Homo sapiens: one gene and its partner. The protein of the gene in region 1 purifies or fractionates together with the protein of each later gene. This does not show direct contact. Each region holds a gene or a part of one and is shown on either strand. Other genes may lie near its edges. The genes, in order: HOXA2 and SYNJ1.

Evidence for each region.
Region 2: the proteins of HOXA2 (region 1) and SYNJ1 purify together in Homo sapiens (affinity purification with mass spectrometry; one large-scale study listed by BioGRID and IntAct). This does not show direct contact.

The regions. Positions count from the first base shown.
Region 1 is NC_000007.14:27,099,884-27,104,210, reverse strand, and holds HOXA2 (homeobox protein Hox-A2), read left to right. Parts: upstream 1-1,527; 5' UTR 1,528-1,710; coding exon 1,711-2,101; intron 2,102-2,745; coding exon 2,746-3,485; 3' UTR 3,486-3,857; downstream 3,858-4,327. UniProt on the Homo sapiens protein: Sequence-specific transcription factor which is part of a developmental regulatory system that provides cells with specific positional identities on the anterior-posterior axis.
Region 2 is NC_000021.9:32,628,162-32,631,357, forward strand, and holds the end of SYNJ1 (synaptojanin-1), read right to left. Parts: coding exon of another isoform or gene 2,834-3,196; 3' UTR 602-2,833; downstream 1-601. UniProt on the Homo sapiens protein: Phosphatase that acts on various phosphoinositides, including phosphatidylinositol 4-phosphate, phosphatidylinositol (4,5)-bisphosphate and phosphatidylinositol (3,4,5)-trisphosphate. Has a role in clathrin-mediated endocytosis.

The DNA of each region.
Region 1 (4,327 bases):
CCCTCTAGCACTGTCCAAGATGCGCTCAGTCTCAAGTCTCCGAATTGGAAAAAAGATAATGAAGGAGAACGAAAACCTTTATAATTCCTCCTTGGGTCGCCTCCTCTCCCCCGCAGTGCTGTTTCCCACAACAGAACCCGGAAGCAAACATCCCCGGTGCCCAAGGATCAGGAAGGTGTGGGAGGCAGTTCAGGCTGCCAGGGAGCACTCGCTGTATCTAAACCAACCAGCCCCCAACCAGAGCGACAAGGACAAGAAGAAGGGTAGAAAAAAAAGAGAGAGGGAGGGAAAGAGAGGAGCAAGCATCTTCTCTTTCCCTGCTGGTAACTTCCAACAGACTTCCTGGAAATCGGAAATACTCACCGCACCCGAGCCCTACGGGTATGAAACCCAGAATGCCAGGAGCCGCACGCGCCTGCTCGGGGCGGCATTTCTTTGGCTGGCCGCCGCCCTGGCTACGGGGATTTGGACACATGGACCTGGGGTTGTTGTCTCGCTTGGCACATGCATCTTTCTCCAGCCACTCCTGAGAAGTTGATGGCGCAGGAAGGTCGGGAAGCTTCGAGAGCCGCCTCCCGTTTTCCGCTTCCCGCCGGAGCCAGATGCAAAGCTGCCGTGGAATAGCCTGCTAACAATGGGCCCGGGGCGCAGACTCTGGGCTGGACACTGGGAGGGGGGCGAGAGGCTGAGGGGAGAAGGGGAGGCGGACAGAAGAGAGAGGGAGGGAGAAAGGGGGAGAAGAGGAAAAAGAGGGAAAGGGACAGACAGGAAGGAAAACAGACCGAGAGAGATCAGTTTTGAGATCCAGGAACTGCTTTTAGGAAAAGTGAAGGAGGAAAAGGGAAAGAAAAGGAAGACCCCTTCCCAACCAAAATCTTTCCTTTCTTCTCTCTTTTCTGTCTTCTCTTTCTCCATCTCTCAAACTCTCTCTTCTTCCCTCTCTCTTTATTCTCCCTCTCTCATCTCCTCTCTTCCTCTGCTCCTTTCTCCTGCTTTAACAGAACTTATGTGGCTGGGACGCAGGGCCCTCGGGTGTCAAAACTTTGAAGATTAATGGATTACTTTGTTAATGACTGCAGGCGTCAGACTGAGGTGCTTAAATGATTTGTGAGGTGCGAGGCGTCTTCCCGACAGTCCCAAACAATGCGCGGAGTGTGCGGGGGAGGCAGAGGGCAGCCACCGGCGGGACCGACAGCAGGGCTTACACTCGCGCACATTCACACACACACACACACACTCCCAGGCACACACACTAGATAGATCCTTGCAGATCAGGAGGCACGCAGGCACCCTCGCCCCCACGTACTCCGGGACATCCCCACCCACACCAACATATATGTATTTTTGCTCTGAAAAAAGTGTAAATAAAGCCTCGCTGGCCCCCAATGAGGCGTTCCTTCCCGACTTTTTTGGATCAATCAAACAGACAGTGGCTTCTTTTGATTAAAGCCCAAATTGTCATTGGGCAGAAGCAATCATGTGACAGCCAATTCGGTCCAATTTCAACCTTGTCTCCATGAATTCAATAGTTTAATAGTAGCGCGGTCCCCATACGGCTGTAATCAGTGAATTAGAAAAAAAACACCCTAGCAGCGATATTCTATGATAGATTTTTTTTCCTCTGCGCTCGCCTTTTTCCTAGGCCTTGCCCCCCCAAAGCCCCTCCAAAAGAGGGAACTTTTTCTCTGAGGGGGCTCCAAGGAGAAGGCCATGAATTACGAATTTGAGCGAGAGATTGGTTTTATCAATAGCCAGCCGTCGCTCGCTGAGTGCCTGACATCTTTTCCCCCTGTCGCTGATACATTTCAAAGTTCATCAATCAAGACCTCGACGCTTTCACACTCGACACTGATTCCTCCTCCTTTTGAGCAGACCATTCCCAGCCTGAACCCCGGCAGTCACCCTCGCCACGGCGCTGGCGGCCGCCCCAAGCCGAGCCCCGCGGGCAGCCGCGGCAGCCCGGTGCCCGCCGGCGCCCTGCAGCCGCCCGAGTACCCCTGGATGAAGGAGAAGAAGGCGGCCAAGAAAACCGCACTTCTGCCGGCCGCCGCCGCCGCCGCCACCGCCGCAGCCACCGGCCCTGCTTGCCTCAGCCACAAAGGTCAGTCCAAAGACTTGGCCCCAGGTCTCTGGGACCCTCTTCCTTCTCCGGGCTGCCCCGAGAGTGGCTGTGGGGGGAGGGGAGAGTGGGCTGGGAGAGAAGGAGGAGAGGGAGAGATGCTTGGTTGCCTTGTCCCTGCCCCTGTGGGTTCAGGAGTGGGTTTGATGGAGAGGAAAGGGGATCCTGCGCTCTACAATGAGACATATATATTTTTAGGAAGTGGGGGGAAACTTTCCCGAACTTGTGTAATGTGGGATGATTTATTTGAGTTGGAACTGACCTCCTCCTGTCTAGTTGTCCTAGAGTTTGGCTTTTTGACAGTAATGAAGAGTGATAGATCGCTCTTGCTCAGCTAAGCAGCTGACGCATTAATTATAAATTGTGTTGTGGCTAATATAAAGTTTGCTCCCGGATGAAGAGGTTGGGGGGAGCCACAGGCATGAATTCGATAGAGATGGAGGAGACGGGGTCTGCCCAGGCTGGGCTCCCAGGAAAGGCAGCACAATAGCTCTACTGCATCCAGGGGCGGCCATTTTGTTGCAGTTGATCTTTTCTGCTATATTTATTCTCCAGTGGAATAACCCCGCTCGGACCCCTCCACCTCCAACTGTGCGTGTGTCTCTTGTTGGTTTCCCTTTCCGCAGAATCCCTGGAAATCGCCGATGGCAGCGGCGGGGGATCGCGGCGCCTGAGAACTGCTTACACCAACACACAGCTTCTAGAGCTGGAAAAAGAATTTCATTTCAACAAGTACCTTTGCAGACCCCGAAGGGTGGAGATTGCAGCGCTGCTGGATTTGACTGAGAGACAAGTGAAAGTGTGGTTTCAGAACCGGAGGATGAAGCACAAGAGGCAGACCCAGTGCAAGGAAAACCAAAACAGCGAAGGGAAATGTAAAAGCCTTGAGGACTCCGAGAAAGTAGAGGAGGACGAGGAAGAGAAGACGCTCTTTGAGCAAGCCCTTAGCGTCTCTGGGGCCCTTCTGGAGAGGGAAGGCTACACTTTTCAGCAAAATGCCCTCTCTCAGCAGCAGGCTCCCAATGGACACAATGGCGACTCCCAAAGTTTCCCAGTCTCGCCTTTAACCAGCAATGAGAAAAATCTGAAACATTTTCAGCACCAGTCACCCACTGTTCCCAACTGCTTGTCAACAATGGGCCAGAACTGTGGAGCTGGCCTAAACAATGACAGTCCTGAGGCCCTTGAGGTCCCCTCTTTGCAGGACTTTAGCGTTTTCTCCACAGATTCCTGCCTGCAGCTTTCAGATGCAGTTTCACCCAGTTTGCCAGGTTCCCTCGACAGTCCCGTAGATATTTCAGCTGACAGCTTAGACTTTTTTACAGACACACTCACCACAATCGACTTGCAGCATCTGAATTACTAAAAACATTAAAGCAAAACAAAGCATCACCAAACAAAAACTCCTTTGACCAGGTGGTTTTGCCTTCTTTTATTTGGGAGTTTATTTTTTATTTTCTTCTTGACCTACCCCTTCCCTCCTTTAAGTGTTGAGGATTTTCTGTTTAGTGATTCCCTGACCCAGTTTCAAACAGAGCCATCTTTTACAGATTATTTTGGAGTTTTAGTTGTTTTAAACCTAACTCAACAACCCTTTATGTGATTCCTGAGAGCAGTATGAGGCCTGCAAGAAAGTGATCATATAATTGTATCTTCACTTTCTTTTTATTTTTGTATTACATTGGGATGCATTGTCATGCATATTTTTTGTAGAATAAATTCTCCTTTGCTATAAGTAGCTTATTTTTCTCCCCCTCTTTTTTCAAGGCTCATAACGGGTTCTTTTTCTTCTTTTAGTCTAACTTCGTAAATAAAATTCGTCACAATTTATCCTCTTTTTTCAATTTTAATACATTTATTAAGGCGGCATGTTCAAAGTCTTCAATGGACAGCAACAAAACAGAAAGCCAAAAAATGACTAGGGCTTCTAATAAGTGTTTTTTCTTTCTTTTTTGCTTCTTCTTCTCCTCTTTCTTTTTAAAGGATTTGATTTTCAGTGCACAGGTTCAAGCCATAGATTTAAATTGGTAATAGAGGCAGAATTGGACAGTCTAAGATTTGGGCCAAGCCCAAGCTCTTGAAAGTGGAGAAATAAAGTGCCTACAGAAACCCCCAACTCCAGGAATGAGTAACACGGAGTTTCTTTAATAAGCTACCAGTCTCCAGGTCAATAACTAAGTTATCAACAATTCATTTGTTTATACACTT
Region 2 (3,196 bases), on another chromosome or scaffold:
TTAGGCAGTCCCTTTTTCTGATTGGCTATTTTTGTCCCAATTCCTCTTTGCCCCCCACTTGTTCCTTCTACTTTGGGTAAGAAAAATCATTCATATTTCTTGTATTATTTTCAAGTCAGCATGTTTTTGCGTGAGGGCCTCTCTTATGGAATAAGTGCATGGACTTTTTTTTTTTTTTGAAACAGAGTTTCGCTCTTCTCGCCCAGGCTGGAGTGCAATGGCACAATCTCGGCTCACTGCAACCTCTCCCTCCCAGGTTCTAGTGATTCTCCTGCCTCAGCCTCCCCAGTAGCTGGGATTACAGGCCTGCACCACCACGCCCAACTAATTTTTTTTTCATATTTTTAGTAGAGATGGGGTTTCACCATGTGGGCCAGGCTGGGCATGGACTTTTTAATAATGATTAGTAATCTCGGAAAATCTTCTTAGTTTTAGAGGAAGCACTATCTGGAGAAATGAAAATAAGGTCTTGAATTAAAATATCTGATTCGGCAATAAGGGTTAAGCTTATTTTGTTTGAACGTCACCAAACTTGTGTATGTAAAGTACAAGGAAAATGGCTGAGAAAAATTCTTCCCTTTCTAACAAAGAAGTCAGCATGGTAAAGACAGATATATTTATTTCATATGACAGCACGTTTCACAGGATATGTACAGAATGTCTGTGTACCACTGACTTTAATACTGTACTTCTATAAAGTTTATAGTTATAAATATTGTATGCCACATAAGCAATAAAATTCTTACATATAAACAGCAATCTAATATAGAGAACACAGAGTTCACAAAGAGATCCTTAGTGTCTAACTTCTGCTCTGCTTTTAACAGAACTAGTAAATATTTAATAATACATAGAATAATGGCTAGTTATTTGCAGCATACCTTTAACTTTCATAACTTTGTGCATTTTCAGCAACTTGCCAAGTATAATTTTCCTGATAAAGGCTGGGCTGCTGATATGTATATTTTAGACAGTAGTTTATATTCAATAGGAAACATTGCTCACAGATCTGCAATTTGCACTAGTGAAGTTTACCTAACAATGAATTATTTTGCTAATGGAGAGCAAATACCATATACACTAGTCACATGGATGTTAAAGCCACAGTTTCAACAAGTTAATTCACATTTTGAAGCAACTGCTTATAGTAATACTGCTGTTTAAGACGCTACTGCTGAAATGATTAGAACCTCCAAAAAGCACAATATAAAACTCACAAGAGTTATTTCTAACAGCAAATCTTGGCTGTTAACAGAGAAGATTACTTCTATAAATATAGTATTTTGATAACATTTGAGCATTTAGAAAAATGCTTTTTTTCTAATAGATTTGCTTTATAAGTGCAGTGCAGTTTGCTGTGCTTTTAACATTCTACATATTCGTAGCCATGAACGCTATTTTTTGATATTCCCTCAATGTACATCTTTAAAGGTTAAGTGTGGACATAGGAATTTAGGTGGACATATACAACTCTTTATATAAAAGGAATGTTAATGTAAGTCTTAATGGGTAAAGATGATTGTAACTGAAACTGACAAAGAAACAACTATTGCTCAAGGAGTTTTCTGATTGGTTTACTTAATGATATCAAAATACTACATTCTGTAAAAATTCTGTGTACTTCTTCAAAAAATTAATAAAAGCGGGATCAGTTGCATATTGGCAGTGCAGGAGACAAAATCCGCAGCTACTTTGAGGTATAGCCTCTAAAAACTTAAAGCAGCATCATAGATGTGTTATGTAGCCTCGTAAGAGGGGGGAGAACACACACTGGGTATATTCCCAATTCAAAGCACTCAGGGGACAGCTGCTTTCCCTGCTAAAAGCAAAGTTCCAGAGCAAAAGCAGCAAAAAGAAAATATGGGAGGGATATGGGCAACGTATACTCGAACGTACGCAGAGAAGAGAGTACGGTTAGCTCTAATATTTCTCATTGAACTTGGTGGTATGTGCCTTCCCTGCATATAAGGCCATAGTGCTTTTTTGGGAGCGCTAGAATATCCATCCACTTGACAGTGACCACAAAATAGGCTGTTTCCAGCTGCAAGAACCTCCTCCTGGAGAAAAGCGTATGAAGGTGCTGGAGTGAAAAGTAACAAGGTTGTGTGTATTTGAAGGGGTTGGGTGTGGAACGGTAGAAAATTCTGATTCTGTGGTGAGATTATTCTAGTTTTGAAAACAAAATTAATGAAAGGTCCAAATTACATTTGCAGCCATCTTTTTGGTAATGTGATATTGAAAAAGGGACTTTGTTGGAACTTTTAGGTATAATTTGGTCTGAGTTATAGCCTAGAAATTAAAGTATGAATTGTAAAAATATGTAAATGTATACAGAAGTACATGTGTTTGTATGTATTATATATGTACACATACCTATACTTTTTTCCTTTAAAGCAATGCCTTTCAAAACTCTGTTCACTGTAACCTTGGCAGCTCTTTGGTAAATACTCAAAGATACCAATTGTTAACAAGTATGAGAGGGCTGGTGGAAATGTCAGCTGAAAGTTGGGTGGGCTTTTTGAGATTCTTCAGAAGACTGACCGAAAAGTTTCTGAATAAGGACTGTTTTCTAAAGTATAAGTACTTTTTATGGCTACTACTGTCTCCTATTCATCCAAAGAGAAATACATCAAAACTCCAGTTAACAATGAGAAGGGTTTTTCCTTATTTCCAATATACACATAGTCCAACTCTGTACACATCAAATAGTGGTGTTTTGTGAAGATATCAGTGCACTTACAATGACTTATTGCACATAATGAAATACTAATGCCCAATTCTCTTAGCTCTATCCTGCCAAAAGCAAGTACCCACTGTTTTCTATTGCATGGCGTTATCTTTCTGTAAAGTCCAGTGTGGGTGAAGCCTTAGAGGCCAAGGTCGTGAAAGGATCTACTGGAGGGCTGGTGCCGGGCGGGAGCAGAGGGACAGGAGGTGGAGGAGGTCTTCTTGACGGCAACACACAGAAGGAGACATTTGTACCTTTATTCCAGTCATCATTCAATGTCAGGTTGGAGCCAGAAAATGAACTTGGCTGATTACCCAGTAAGTCTGAACAAGCTGACTTTGACTTCCCTTTCACACCAAAATCCTCTTCTTCCTCGAAGGTTACCCATCCTTTCGGGTTGCTAATTTTTAATGTAGACTGGCCCTGTAGATCAAAACTGTCCTTAAAGCCATCAAGTGAAGATGAAGC